2 separate regions of the Homo sapiens genome follow, and region 2 is linked to region 1. Evidence: fine-mapped expression QTL. Tissue or cell type: whole blood. Region 1 holds a variant in brackets; the other region holds the start of a gene. All regions are shown on one strand. Distances are from middle to middle.

What was found. PIP is the estimated chance that this variant, and not a neighbour inherited with it, causes the effect.
Region 2: MAPKBP1 starts here. The variant in region 1 is fine-mapped to the expression of MAPKBP1 in whole blood (TOPMed, PIP above 0.99).

What each region holds. Positions count from the first base shown.
Region 1 is chr15:41,642,683-41,650,788 of GRCh38, forward strand. It overlaps a transcript of MGA not described here. Among named protein-coding and RNA genes, the nearest start is that of MGA, 14 kb to the right of the region's middle. The variant GTTAA/G (reference allele first, on the strand shown) is at 4,086.
Region 2 is chr15:41,769,868-41,777,973 of GRCh38, forward strand. MAPKBP1 (mitogen-activated protein kinase binding protein 1) reads left to right here and starts at 4,617. Exons shown (of 31, transcript NM_014994.3): 1 at 4,617-4,743; 2 at 5,300-5,522. The coding sequence starts at 5,409. It overlaps MGA (MAX dimerization protein MGA), which reads left to right. Exons shown (of 24, transcript NM_001400225.1): 24 at 1-73. RefSeq lists an enhancer at 4,064-4,113.

The DNA.
Region 1 (8,106 bases):
CAGGATGGTCTTGATCTCTTGACCTTGTGATTCCCCCTGCCTTAGCCTCCCAAAGTGCTGGGATTACAGGCATGAGCCACTGTACCCGGCCATTTTTTTGTATTTTTAGTAGAGATGGGGTTTCACCGTGTTGGCCAGGCTGGTCTCGAACTTCTAACCTCAGGTGATCTGCTTGCCTCAGCCTCCCAAAGTGCTGGGATTACAGGCGTGAGCCACCATGCCTGGCCTTTTTTTTTTTTTTTTCTTTTGAGACTGGGTCTTTGCTCTGTTGCCCAGGCTGCAGTGCAGTGGCATGGTCAGGGCTCACTGTAGCCTCATCCTCCCAGGCTCAAGTGATCTCTTACCTCAGCCTTCCAATTATAGGCATGTGTCACCACACTTAGCTAATTATTTTTTATTTTTTTTTTAGAAACAGGGTCTTGCTGTGTTGCTGGGGTTGGTCTTGAATTGAGCTCAAGCCATCTTCCTGCCTTGGCCTCTCAAAGTGCTGGGATTACAGGTGTGAGCCATGGTGCCTGGCTCTTTTTTTTTTTTTTAATTTATTTTATTTTATTTTATTTTTTATTTTTATTTTTTGAGACGGAGTCTCACGCTGTGGCCCAGGCTGTAGTGCAGTGGCGTGACCTTGGCTCACTGCAACCTCCGCCTCCCGGGTTCATGTGATTCTCCTGTCTCAGCCTCCTGAGTAGCTGGGACTATAGGCACGTGCCACCATGCCTGGCTAATTTTTTGTATTTTTAGTAGAGATGGGGTTTCACTGTGTTAGCCAGGATGGTCTCGATTTCCTGACCTTGTGATCTGCCTGCCTCGACCTCCCAAAGTGCTGGGATTACAGGGGTGAGCCACTGCGCCTGGCCCTGGCTCCCATTTTTAAAGTGATTTTTTTGTTGTTGAGTTGTAGGAGTTCTTTTTATATTCTAAATATTAGTCCATTATCAGATATATGGTTTGCAAATATTTTTTCCTTTTCTGTACATTGCCTTTTCACTGTCTTAATAGTGAATAATATACAAAAGGTTTTAATTTGATGAAGTCCAGGATCTTTTTTTATCGTGTATTACCTGTGCTTTTTGTGTCATACTTTTTTTTTTTTTTTTCCCTGAGATGAAGTCTCACTAAGTCGCCTCCGCCCGCCTCAGCCTCCCAAAGTGTTGGGATTACAGGCATGAGCCATCATGCCCAGCCTTTTTGCCATACTTAAGAAATCATTGCTAAATCCAAGGTTGTGACTCTTTCTCATTTTTTTTCCATAAAAGTTTTATAGTTTCAGCACTTACTTTTAGATCTTTGATCTGGTTTGTGTTCATTTTTGCATGTGGTGTGAGGTAAATGGTTCAACATAATTCTTTTATTTTTTTGAGTCAATGTTCTGCTGAACCAACATAATTCTTTTGTATGTGTATCCAGTTGTCCCAGTACCATTTTTTCATCCTCTGTGAATTTAATAAAGTACATCTTCATATTTTACATAATAAGACATTTCTTCATACTTTATATAAAACTGGCCTAACATTTCATTCAAAATATTACTATACAGGCCAGGTACAGTGAGTGGATGGATCATACATGTAATCCCAGAACTTTGGGAGGCTGAGGTGGGAGGATTGCTTGAGGTCAGTAGTTTGAGACCAGCCTGGGCAACGTAGCAAGACTCCATCTGTACCAAAAAAAAAAAAAAAAAAAAAAAAGAAGGCCGGGTGTGGTGGCTCACATCTGTAATCCCAGCACTTAGGGAGGCCGAGGTTGGAGGATCACTTGAGTCCAGGAGTTTGAGACCAGCTTGGTCAACATGGTGAAACCCTGTCTCTACTAAAAATACTAAAAATTAGCCAGGCATGGTGATCACGCACCTGTAATCCCAGCTACTTGGAATGCTGAGACATGAGAATCACTTGAAACCCGGGAGGAGGAGGTTGCAGTGAGCCGAGACTGTACCACTGCCCTCCAGCCAGCCTGGGTGGACTCTGTCTCAAAAAAAAGAGGAAAAGAAAAAATATTACCATTCAAAGTGAATATGAAATGTGTATTATTAATTGTGGAATACTAAAGTTGGAGTATATACCATAGAGGTTGTCTTCAGTCCTCCTTATTTTATAAATGTGGAAAGAAAGACCTAGAAAAGTTAACTGATGTCCAGTGTTGTATAGCTAATCAGTTGGAGATAATACGTTAACCCAGGTGTTTGCAAACTTTTTCTGTAGAGGGCCACATAGTAAGTATTTTAGGCACTGTGGGCCAAGAGGCAAAATAGGGTATTATGTAGGTACATATATTAAAAGAAAAAACAAATTTCCACAAATTTTGTATTGATGAAAATAAAAAATGTAATTGTTTAGTACTTTTTCATTTTGGTAATACATGTCTACAGATGAGAAGAATGGAATTCTTTTTTTGGGGAGGATAACAATTTGTTTAATTGAAGTTCAAAGTAAATGTTCCTTAGCCTTAAAATCAGTTGCAAATGTTCATCTGTTATTATTTATCTGTATGAGGTTTTATGTATTTAATCTTAGAAAATGTCATTTTTCACAGACAGGTCCTGCCAATTACTCATATCAATTCACAAGCATGTGTTTCTAATTGAGCCTGTTAGTCTCTTGGAAGGCATTTTAAGAATTCTGTTAGGGCCGAGTGCGGTGGCTCACGCCTGTAATCCCAGCACTTTGGGAGGCTGAGACCGGCAGATCACTTGGGCGGAGCTCCAGACCAGCCTGGCCCATGTGGTGAAACCCTGTCTCTACTAAAAATACAAAAATTAGCTGGGCGTGGCATGTGCCTGTAATCCCAGTTACTCGGGAGACTGAGGAAGGAGAATCTCTTGAACCTGGGAGGTGGAGGTTGCAGTGAGCTGAGATTGTGCCACTGCACTCCAGCCTGGGCTACAGAGTGAGACTCTGTCTGAAAAAAAAAATTGTTGGATTCTTTGATTTTTAAAACATTAGTTGAAGATTAATCACTTTAAATTTAAGGCTAGATGGAACCTCCCCAATTGCACAAGTAGATAGATTTTGAAATGGAGAAATTCCCTTTTCACTTGCACCAAGTTCTGGTGCAAGTATAAAATGCTGAACTTGGAAGATATATTCACTACAACTTTGTATGGGAATGGACATCTCTCATACTGTTTTAATTCTGGACAACACAGGAAGTGTATGTACTTTGACAATACTTGTGGTTCAAACAATATTAATTTTTATTGAAATGACTTTGTGGCAGCATAAGTTCTGCATATAATCACTGTTTTGCTATTTGACTAGGTTGAATTCATTGAGACACATGGTGAAGTCTGTCAGAAAAGCTAATTTCCAGAGCCATTCAGTGTTCAATTAAATAGTGGGTGTGGGTGGTCTCATTCAGAAAAATTTCAGCTCACCCTGAATTTTAAAAATTGCAGTAAAAATTTCCCTCTGCTAAGCTCAATCACTGCTTCAGAAAATAAACTGAAAAAGTTTATTTTCTCTGGATATACAATTCTTTGGCAGCTATAGTCAGATGTGATTTAGTTAACTAACTATTGCTAAGTGACTTTCCTTGCTTGGCTAATAGAGGTGATATTCAGAAGCTTACTTTCGTTGCATCCTCATTTGTAGTTTTTATTTTTGTGAAGAAATTTAGCTGTGAGGAGATATTCCATTTTATTTTATTAATATTTATTAATTTTTTTCTATTTTTCTTTTTTTGGAGATGGAGTCTTGCTCTGTTGCCCAGGCTGGAGTGCAATGGCATGATCTCGGCTCACTGCAATCTCTGCCTCCCGAGTTCAAGTGATTCTCATGCCTCAGCCTCCCCAGTAGCTGGGGTAACAGGCGTGTATTTTTAGTTGGAGGGGGAAGTTCTGCCATGTTGGCCAGGTTGGTCTCGAACTCCTGGCCTCAAGTGATCCACCCACCTTGGCCTCCCAAAGTTCTGGGATTACAGGTGTGAGCCACTGGAGGGAGAATTGCTTGAACCTGGGAGGTGGAGGTTGCAGTGAGCCAAGATCATGCCGCTGTACTCCAGCCTGGGCAACAGAACGAGACTCTGTCACCCCCCGCCCCCTGGAAAAAATGCGTTTTTTGACTTAATGATATTTTCAATTGTGATGG[GTTAA/G]TTGAGATATCACCCCACTGTAAGTTTATGGGGACCTGTATTGGTGTCATTCCAGGTTACTGGAAAATTATTTCTGTAACCTGTATGTGTACACTGGTTAGCAATGTAGTTTTTACTGAGTCACAGTCAGAAAAGTTAGAGAAATATTTATAGAGCATATATGATGTCAAGTAAAAAATGTCTGAAATCCATGAAGACTGCCTGTCTTCCATGTACAACTTACTTCTTCAGATTTGTTATTTCCATTGGATAAGCTTCAGGTTTCTTTTATATGTTGATGTTCTCCAGGGCTATTTTCTAGCTTGGCTCTCTTTTCTCATTCAGCTTCTATGGTTCTTTATCTTTTGTTGGGTCATACACCCCTCGGAAAATTGATAAAATTTATGGACCCTTTGTCAAAAATTGCTTGTATGTACCTTACACAAACTTGTGCTTACAATTTTAGGAGTTTCACAGGACATCTGCCTGCAAGCTCATTCGTAGATTCTAGATCAGAGCCCCACTTCTCTATGTGCTACCTGAATAATTGCACTTACATTTATAGTTTGAAATACATTGATTTTCCAATCTATTTCTTCAGTATGATTCTCTGTCCTGAGCACTAGACCCTGATATTCATTTACTTCCTCTCCTTGCATATGTGAATATTCTGTTGTACTACTCCACTTATGAAACTGTGTAGTTCCTGGAATACATTTTTCTGTTGTTAAATCCTTGACTCCTTGGTTATGAGGCTCTGCCACTTCCTTGTTCTTTAAGACATTCTCCCTCCTTAGCTTCTGTAATTCTACTCTCATCTATTTTTCTCTTATTTCTGTGACTACTCTTCTCTTCCTTTTTCCTAGATTCTTTTTTCACCACCTGTCATCTAAATGTCTGTTCTGACCATAACCCTCTGAAATATTTTACTCTACATTTTTGGGCTTTTTCAAACCCCTGGCTTTAGTTACTTCCCAAATCTTTGTATTTAGCTAAGGTTCACCTTTTTTATCTCCAGTGTCTACTGGACATTTCCACTTAGATCAATGGTTCCTAAATATTTTGGGGGATTACATACTCCCCTAATAATCTGATTAAGGTATATCTTTCTCCCCAGAAAAGTACATCGCATACTAAATTTTGCATACTGTTCTAGGTTGTTCCTGGACCTCTTTCAGCCCCTCCATGGATTCCCTGTGGTATTCTAATTAAGCAGATATTAAGATGTTCCTGAGCTGCCTTTAATTCAGTTTGTCCAGAATCGACACTATCATCATTGCCTCTAACCCATTTTATTCTTATTCCTCTCCCTAATGCTTCTAAATATAATTATTTGCCTCTTAATTATTTACTAACAAATTCATTCTGCAAATATGTGAATGCTTACTTCGTATCTGGCACCTGACCTGAATATGCAGTGATGCACAAAATAGACATGGTTATTTAGTTCTCTCAAAGCTTACTCTATAGCATAGTCATTAAAAGTGTGAACTTTGGAGCCAGAGTGTCTGGGTTCAAGTTTTGACTCCTTACTGCTTTGTGACCTTGAACAAATTACTTAACCTCTCTGTTTAATCTTTAACTTAACCTTTTAGTTTCATCATCAGCCTGCTTCACTGGTTATTAGGATTAAATGAGTTAATATATGGCAAATGCTGTGTATATGTTAGCTGTTATTCATGGAGGAGACATTGAATAATCATAAGTAAATATACATTTTGGTAAGTACTATGAGGGAATAGAACAGGGTACTTTGAGAGAGAATTTAAATTAGGGAGTAGGGATAGCATTGCTAAGGAAGTGATATTTAGACAAACTGGTAGGATGTATAGGTGTTACCCAGGTGAAGGTTTGTGGGGACTGGAAGCAAAGCGTTTCAGGCAAATAGAAAAAGCAGTGTAAGAGCCCTTCTCTGAGAAAATGTTTGGAGCATTTGAGAAATAGAAGGTCATTGTGCCTGGAGTATGATGTGTTATGGGGAGAATGATGTGAACGCGGAGATCTGTAGGCCATACTAAGGATGTTAGATTTATTCTAAATGAAATGGGAAGCTAATGGAAGGTTAAAAATGGCAGAAATGGCATGAACTGATTTATGTTTAGAAAGGGTCCCTTGATACTGTGTGGAGAATGGATTACAGGAGAGAGCCAGAATGAGTGCCTGGAGAGAGAGAAAAAAGAAAAGTCTGTTGCAGTAGTCTGAGTAAGAGCTGCTGGTGGTTTGGACTAGGGTGATGCATGAAGGTGGAATGAAGTGTGTGGGTGCAAAATGTTTTAAATTGAGTGCTTCTATGTGCAAGGTACTGTTGATAGAATCTTAGGGTACAATGTAGAGGTTAAAAAGGACATACAGGCTGGGCATAGTGGCTCACACCTGTAATCCTAGCACTTTGGGAGGCTGAGGCGGGTGGATCATGAGGTCAGGAGTTCAAGACCAGCCTGGCCAAGATGGTGAAACTTCGTCTCTACTGAAAATACAAAAATTAGCTGGTCATGGTGGCAGGAACCTGTAATCCCAGCTATTCGGGAGGCTGAGGCAGAGAATCGCTTGAACCTGGGTGGCAGAGGTTGCAAGTGAGCTGAGATCATGCCACTGCACTCCAGCCTGGACAACAGAGTGAGACTGTCTCAAAAAAAAAAAAAAAGGACATATAGTCTATAATTTGTAGGGATGGGATGAACAGGAGAGAGAAGACAATTATACAAATAAATATAAAAAATAGACCTGTGTAAGTTCTAGGAAGAACAGATACATGGTGTTTTTGACAGCGTATCATGGTCAGGAAGGTCAGTGATGTAGAATCAACAGGAAGATTTGATGATTGACTTGATGTAGAAGGAAGGGAGAGGAGGATATGTAGTTGGATATGGAGAAAAGTCTTACTGGGTTCTAGTCTTATTGTCATCTTCCACACCATCTTGTTTGTTTGTTTGTTTGTTTGTTTATTGAGCTGGAGTCTCTCTCTGTCACCCAGGCTGGAGCTCAGTGGTGCAATTTCAGCTCACTGCAACCTCCGCCTCCCAGGTTCAAGTGATTCTCCTGCCTCAGCCTCCTGAGTAGCTGGAATTACAAGCACCCGCCACCACACCTGGCTAATTTTTTTTATTTTTAGTAGAGACGGGGTTTCGCCATGTTGGCCAGGCTGGTGTCGAACTCCTGACCTCAGGTGATCTGCCTGTCTTGGTCTCCCAAAGTGCTGGGATTACAGGCGTGAGCCACCGCGCCCAGCCTTCCACACCACTTTGGTTAACCAGTAACCAAAGTAATTCTTTACTTCCTATGAGAATTATTCTATGATCCCTCAGTATAATTTAGTTGCTTTTTGTTTATACTTCCATTACACCCCAGGCAGAGAGCCAGTAGCTTTCTTTATTCTTTGTTGTCATCATTGAGTATTGGTTATCTGATAATAGTTGTCTGATAATTGATGGTAAGCTTTTGAGGGTAGGAATCATGTCTTTGCGTTCCAGGATATGTACATGGTAAGTGCTCAATAAATGTTTGACTTGAGGAATTAATGAATACTCTGTTCTTTTTTGTCATGTGCCTTTGCATAAGCTGTTCCTTCTCCTTAGAATGCCCTTCCTTCCCTTGTGTGCTTTGTCAACTTCTAGACATTCTTTAACACTAAGCCTTACTTGATACCTCAGTGTCAGTTCCTCCTACCACTATGCTTCTATAGTTTTTCTTAATTTTAATTTTTTTTTGAGACAGTCTCATTCCATCACCCAGGCTGGAGTGCAGTGGTGTGATCTTGGCTCACTGTAACCTCCACCTCCCTGGTTCAAGCAATTCATCTGTCTCAGCCTCCCGAGTAAATGGAATTACAGGCGTGCACCACCATGCCTGGCCAACTTTTGTATTTTTAGTAGAGATAGGGTTTCACCATGTTGGCCAGGCTGGTCTCAAACTCCTGACCTCAAGTGATCTGCTTCTCTTAGCCTCCAAAAGTGCTGAGATTACAGGCGTGAGACACTGTACCTGGCCCTATAGTTTTTCTTTTGTATACCTCTTATAAATATTTGATAGTGCAGAGTA
Region 2 (8,106 bases), 130 kb after region 1:
TAAGAACAGAAGTTTGGTGATTGAAAGGTAGAATATATAAACCTGAAATAAAGCAGTTAAAACAATTAAAGCAGAACTTGGTGTTGGGAGGTTTGTGCCAACTTGGAGTGGAGAATTCTAATTCCCTAAGACATATTTGAGAGAGGTGCCACTGAAGTGGTTTTATCATAGGAATCCTTTCCTTTTCTCTAAGTTTCTGATATGCCATTTGGGGGAGGTTTTCGATGTTCTAATCCTTGTAGCATGTTTTACATGGAGGCTTCAAAATTGTGTGCAACCTGATGGCAAGTATTTGTTTTAGAAGTCATTCTAAAATCATTCTGGTGTCAGTATGAGCAAGGCAGTTCACCTGTTAACCTTGGGGAGTAAAGGTACACAAACACAGTCTTTTAGTGGTAAAGGACAGTAGGTGTTCTTAAGGGAAGATATGTTAAAGAGTTTGACAGTTAACAAAAACGTTTAAAGGAATCCTTTAGACATCCAACTACTCCTATCTATTAAGGTCACTAACAGATCAAGTCCAGTTATATAAGCTTCATACAAATTGTTCACTTTGTGTGATTTTATAGTACATACAATAGTTTTTTCGTGGAATTACAGATGAAATACCTGATGCTAGGCTCTTCTATAACAAGTTTGAAAATGTTTTGAACACACAAGAAAGGCAGACAATCCATATGTTATTTTTGGTTTAGTGGTTTAGATAATTTTTTTTCTAACTATACTGGTTGAGATATTTGAAATCAAATAGGGTGATGCACTTTAAAAACGGGTCTAGAAAATAGTGACAGCCCTTGTCCCTCACTCCAGAATTAAACAACAACAAACCATACACAGCACATTTTCCAGGTACTTTTATAGAGAATGACTGATAACCAAGAATCAGAATACATTTCTTGCACAAAACTGTTGGTTTTGAAGAAGGTGCTGTAAAGGCATCAGTACTTCATGTCACTGTATTATCACTAATGAAATTTTTATTTTTATTTTTTTTGAGGCAGAGTCTCACTCTGTCGCCCAGGCTGGAGTGCAGTGGTGCCGTCTTGGCTCACTGCAAGCTCTGCCTCCCGGGTTTACGCCATTGTCCTGCCTCAGCCTCCGGAGTAGCTGGGACTACAGGCGCCCGACACTGTGCCCGGCTAATTTTTTTGTATTTTTTTGTAGAGACAGGGTTTCACCATGTTAGCCAGGATGGTCTCAATCTCCTGACCTTGTGATCCGCCCGCCTCGGCCTCCCAAAGTGCTGGGATTACAGGCGTGAGCCACTGCGCCCGGCCTACTAATGAAATTTTACATGGACACAAATATCTAGGTGCAGGGAAAATTAAAGCTGAGATATTCAGACTCACTGCCAGTTGGAGGAAAAAAATCAGTTATAACGCATTTTTTGGAATAGAGGGAAATAATTTGATAAGTACAACTTTTTGTTTGAGGTGTAGCTAATGTTAGACATGACTGAGCTGTTCTACACATAAGTGTTGAATAGTGATGGTGGTGCATTAAGAGGATGGGAAGACTATGGGATGAGTTGGAAATTTTGAGACAAATCTAAACTCTACTAATTTCTATTGTTGTAAACTCTGCTGGTAGAAAAGATATTAAGTAGGAAAGCAGTCTTGGAAGCATGGTTTTGAGATCCATTGTGTTTCCAACTGCAATCATTGATCTCAGCTGTTGCACAGTGCCTTTGCATGTAAAGGTGCTCAATAAATATTTGAATTGATGAGCAAATGTTTAGACTGTTTCCCAGGAACTTATACCTTATTTGCATGTTATGCCTAGGGTGAATTTTAAAATTTGATCTAATGAGTATAGTGCTAAACAGACAACTATATAACGTCTATTCCCCAGACATCTAGAATTTCAGAAGCTGGCAAACACTATGTATAGATGTTTAGGACATATAAAAGTAGAATAAAGTGTTAAATAGTGTATGGATGATGAAATACTTATGAAGAGTTAACTGCATTTTGGAGGATTGGGATGGCAAGTAGAGTCATGCGTCACTTAATGATGGGGATACGTTCTGAGAAATGCACCTTGGGTGGTTTTGTTCTGCAAACATCATAGAGTGTACTGTACTTAAACAAACCTAGATGGTGTTGCTTAACCACACACCTAGGCTGTGTTGCTCCTAGGCTACAACTCTGTACAGCATGTTAACTGCACTGAATATCATAGGCAGTTGTAACACGTGGTGTTTGTGTGTCTACACATAGGAAAGGTATGGTAAAAATATGATATTATAATTTAATGGGATCATGTGGTCATTGAAATGTATACAGTGCATGACTGTAAATCTGAGTGGAGAAAAGTGAATAATGCTTCTGTTCACATTAGACCTGGGACTGTTATTTTCTGAGGAATTAATGAAGAATGGGAATAGCCTATATAGCTTATTCCTATATTGGTATCTCAAAGGCAGTGTAGTACCTAGACAATAAAAGTTGGACTGAATTGTGAAGAATTAAAAATGTGTGGGCCGGGCATGGTGGCTCACGCCTGTAATCCTGGCACTTTGGGAGGCCAAGGCAGGCGGATCACGAGGTCAGGAGATCGAGACCTCCTGGCCAACATGGTGAAACCCCATCTTTACTAAAAATACAAAAATTAACTGGGTGTGGTGGCGCGTGCCTGTAATCCCAGCTACTCGGGAGGCTGAGGCAAGAGAATGGCTTGAAACCAGGAGTCGGAGGTTGCAGTGAGCTGAGATCGCCACTGCAGTCCAGTCTGGGGACAGAGCAAGACTCTGTTTAAAAAAAAAAAAAAAAAAAAAAAAAAAGCGTGGCTTTGGCCTAAGACTGGAAGTACCCAGATTCCAGACTTAAGAAATCCTCATTAAAATGCTTTCAGTTGTTTTTCATGAAAGAAATGACCAGTGATACTTTGTAAACCATTTATCTGGCCATGAGTGATCAGGTGAGAAAACCGTTAGCGGACACCAGAATGATCTGGAGAGGATTAGGGACGGCTCTTGTGGGCACATTTTTACTCTAGTTTCATGGGTGGAGATGGCATCTGCCGTGGTCTGCAGCATGCAAGTAAAGACACCAGGTGGCACCATTTATTAGCTTTCAATCCCATGGAGAGGTCCCATCATGTAACTACCAAGAGGTTGAAGGAACCAACTACCTCTTGCATATTGTAGCTAATGGTTCTTGCCTTCTTCTTCCAGACTTGGGAAATAAATTTGAAAATCGTATTTTCTGTTTCATAATATTTGCAGTGCATGGTTGAAGGGAAGAAGGCCACGTGCTATTGCCAGTTGGTCTCCAGGAGGTGACATCCATCATCTCCATGTCAACTTGTGAGCTTTACAAATCTAATTTTCAGTACGTGGCTACAGTATACACAAGAAAATATGTGCTTTGCCACTTGGCTCTAAAGGCTCACCGTTGTACACAAGCAATGAGTTTAGGGGTTCTTCCCTCTTGTTATCACATGTCATCTCCACAGGGTTTCAAAAGATCTGGATAGGGTGAGACAGACACACCAGTGTAGTACTCCCTTGGGTCCCTTGTCTTTGGCTTAGGCTTTTTCATAAGGTATAATAATTTGTTAGAGGTTCTTCCCTCTTGCAGACACATGTCATCTCCACAGGGATTCAAAAGATCTGGATAGGGTGAGACGGACACACCAGTGTACTATTCCCTTGGGACCCAAGTCTCTGGCTTAGGCTTTTTCATAAGGTGATTTCTTGTGGTAGTAGTCAAGTGGAGAATACTCAGGAAATACTATTTCATGTAACATTTCCGTGTATTCCCTCTGCCTCCCCCGACATGAGTTAGAAAACTACCCCTCGATCTAGTATCAGCAAGCTCGACAGTGACCTCAGCAAGGAACAGCCCTAGATAAAAGGATTCATAAGTAAATGGAATGAGGAAAAGATCTGGAGCAACAAAGTCCTGGTCAGCTTTAGGTGAGGAAGCACAATGGGATGTTGGAGGCTAAAGAAGCCATGAAACCTAAAGTATTATAACATAGCATATTCACTTCTCTTTCCCCCGCACGCCCAAAGCTCTGTTCAAGGCCACCCTTTCCCCTTTCATGATGACCAGGTTGCCCAGTGCAAAAATACTGTTCTTAGCTATTAAATTGCATTACTCAGAATAATCCTTTCCACGTTGAGTCTACGTGCCGGACTGGCTGCGAGCAGAAACTACTTCAGTCGCTTTAAATCTCAACACTTGTGGTCGCTGGGAGCAGAGCTTTTAGGCTGTAGCTCAGTCTTGTAATTCTGAGCTAGGAGTTTCAGCTACGGTCCCTCGGGCCTATCAGATGACAACCTTAACACCCTGGAGGCGTGGTTATCGTCTTGGGGCTCTGGGAAGTGCAGTTCCATGGGGGACCAGGCCTGATAATACCATAAAAGGCTTGGTTCTCTCAATTCTGAAGCCATGTTCTGTTGACCTTCCTCTAAAAGCGGTACCCGCAATTGTGCGGATTCCGTGGTTCCCTAGTCCCAAGCCGTCTGCTTCCTGGGCCCTTTCATTGGCTCCGCCCCCGTAAACCTTGCTCGTCCACTCTGGAAGCGCTCTCCTGACTACAGGCCGCGCCCCTCGCGTCGGCTCCGCCCACCCAGCCCGCGGCTTGGCCCAGGCGGTAGTTCGCGTTTTGAGCCGATCGTGCCACCATAGCTCCTGCTGCTGCCTCTACCGCTGCGGCTACCGCGGCGGAGCTGAAATTGCCGAACGCGATGCCCGAGGGCGCTGTGAGCGGGGTGGCCTTAGCTCGCCGAGGCTGGTGAGGCTGGGCCCGAACGGGGGCGCTGACGAGTAGCAGGGGCCTCAGAGGCGGGTGAAAGATAAAGGTCCAGAGCCGCTGTGGAGGGCGGAGAGCGAGCTCTGGAGGATAGGGAGTGGGGGAGGGAGGCTCCCGTGGCAGAACGAGTTGTGGGCTACGGCGAGCCCCGCCGCGTCCCCGCCGGCGCTAGCGCAGGTGTCCAGGCCTGCGGAAATCCCTGGTGGTCTCGGCGGCCTCCTCCCTTGGACACTACAGTTGCCATGGGAACAGTTGGGCATTAACGGGAACCAGATCGTCCACGAGACCAACTGGGGCCCATCCCATCCATCTCGCCAGTTAAACGCCTCTGGCGGGCGTGGGCCTGGCATTTCTTCGTGGCTTAGGATTTTCCCCCCCTTTTTCGTGAGCCTTTCCTTCCGACGTTGTAAGAAACTGTGCAGGGCTAGAAGGTGGGGATGAGGGAAATGGTGAGAGCAATACCCAGAGGTAAAAGCTGCAGACTTCGCTAGGCAGAAGGTAAGACACTGTGATACTAAGGTGGCTTCTGCCATCTCAGGTCAGTGAGAGGGCATACTGGGAAGCCCTCTGGAGTGGGAAGACAGTGCCGCTGTTGAGACAAGACCCAGGACTGGGCCGGGGACTGTCCCAAAGGGTTTCTCGTCATAATGGCTGTGGAAGGGTCAACCATTACCAGCCGGATCAAGAATCTGTTGAGATCTCCATCCATCAAACTGCGCAGGAGTAAGGCAGGAAACCGACGAGAGGACCTCAGCTCCAAGGTGAGTCCTGTTGGGATCCACCTCTTTCCAAACCCACCCTCTCCTGCTCCATGTTCCTCGTTAACCTTCCTGTTTCTTGGGAAAGATAACTAGAAGCCCTTGTTGACTCTAAAGGATCACATATGATCTCTGCAGGCAATGATTTGGTTTTAGGTTGAAGGAAAAAGAGCAGCAGGGGTGGGCATGCTGAGATTCATCCATGAGAAAAGGTGAATAGTAGGAAGACCACCTGGGTTCAATTGTGGCCTCACTATACACTAAGCATGTGCTTGGGAAGCCAGTTGATATGCTATGACTCAGTTTCCCTTCTTGGGAGAGGACAGTAGGAACACATACCTTGTGAAGGGCTAAGCTGTGACTAATGTAGCTGCAGGTGTTAACGTAACAGCTGGGGTTATGTAAGACTGTAGTGGCAGAAAGAAATATGCTAAAACACCTAGTCAGAGTTACTGGCTTGGTAATTGCTCTTGCCTACGGTGAAAACAAATTTTTTTTGTCTCTTCAAGAGGCTAACTGGAGCCTTTTGGCTTCTTAGGAATAACATGCAAGAAGCCAGATATCTGTCAGCAAAACAGTTCTGGATGGCCCTTGAGCATTGCTTATCTCATTCACTATATGCCAAGAGCCACATCCCACTCAGCTGCAGATGATCCTCAGAGGCAAAGTTCCTTTCCATCGCTTCACTTGTCTGTGTTTTGGTCCTTATGCTTTTTCAACTAAATAAACCCCACAACTTTGGGAATCCAGAAGTAGTCGACATTTATTTAATCCCTTGAGGGAATCCAGGGCTTTACTCCCACAGGATCAGATCAGATTTTGTGTCTTATTAGTAGCCTGTAAACCCAATAGGGTTGTGAGGTACAAGGTTGTTACAGGGAGAGGCATTTGAGACCACAGCATTGTATTGCTTTGCCTGTATCTCTTCAGTGATGAGTAAATCCCATGAGGAATGATTTAGAATGCCACTGTACAAATGGCAGGGTTCTGGGAGGACTTAGTTCAGCCCTGTGTTCCTTAGCAGAACTTTGAGTAGATTTGGTAAGAAGGTGAAGAGCTTTCCTGTATATTTCAGCAGAAGTTGTGTTGAATCACAGTTTGCTACAAGGTTTTGTGATGGTGGACATTGTGACCCTTCCAAGGTCTCTTATTCATCATTGTTTCTATTCTCCTGAGGCAGGCAAAGAAGCCTGAAATGTAGAAATTGCCTTAGATATGACTCTGTTCATTCTTAATACTGCAAGTGCTCTTATTCTTGGCTGGTAGCTTGGCAGTGACCAGCACTGTTAGAGCAATCTTCTCCAATCTTTGGCCTCTTTTTCTGGCCAGGAATGATATATGTAGTAGAAACATATAATGAGAGTTTAGCCTTCATTGTTAATTCTTACTGTAATTTTGGTCTGGAATCCAGAAAGTATAGTTGCCATTCTTTAAGACTTCCAATATCATCCATTATTAATGCATTTAACAAGTGTTTATTGAGTGCCTATGAAGTGTGCAATCAGTGATGGGTAAAACATTACCCTTGCCATCAAAGAGCTTATGGCTAGTCAGACATGTAAACAATTAAAACACGGTGTGGTAAGTGCTGCTGTAGAAGTATGTGTACGTTGTTAATGGAAGCACAGGGGAGGCGACCTAAGTCAGTTCAGAGGAATTAGGAAAGGCTTCACAGGCCAGGCATGGTGGCTCACCCCTGTAATCCCAGCACTTTGGGAGGCCAAGGCGGATGGATCACTAGGTCAGGAGTTCGAAACCAGCCTGGTCAAGATGGTGAAACCTCATCTCTACTAAAAATACAAAAATTAGCCGGGCGTGGTGGTGCATGTCTGTAATCCCAGCTACTCGGGAGGCTGAGGCAGGAGACTCGCCTGAACCCGGGAGGCTGAGGTTGCAGTGAGCTCAGATCCTGCCAGTGCACTCTAGCCTGGGTAACAGAGCAAGACTCCGTCTCAAAAAAAAAAAAAAAAGGAAAGGCTTCACAGAGGAAGGGATGCTTGAACTGTGAGTCCTAAGGCAGGTGGAGAAGAGCTCTCCAGGAAAACAGTGGAAAAGGGGCATCCCTGGCAAGACCATTTACCATTCCCTGTTTAAAATAGGAATTCAGTGCTTCAGACTGCTTTAGATGGCTTTGTCTGTCCTGAAGCTGTGTATGAAAGAAATACTTAGCTGAAGTTGAATGACCCTTGAATGGTCTGGCAGCAAAATGACTGGTGCATATCTTTAGCACCCAAGAGGAGTAGCTGTCTTTGTGCGCCCAGGACCCTAGAGATGCCAGACTCCCCACACTCCTTAGTAAAAGGTCTCTACCTGAGATTATTCTAAAAGCCTGCCTTGTGATTACTCTAGTGTATTAAGCTCTGTGAGTTGCTCTAACATGTGGTGGCTGTGAGTAATCATGATAACAGGAAATTTGTGATTCATGGATAGCTAATTCTCAAATAAAATTTGAAGACAAAAAGGTACATGCCCCTTTTGGGGGGCAAAGAAGGAAATGTCAGAAAGCTTTTATGCAGCTCTTACTTCAGATGGCCTCCTGCTTTGAATTATACTGTTCTTTCTATCTAAAGTAGCCTTCTCCTTTACA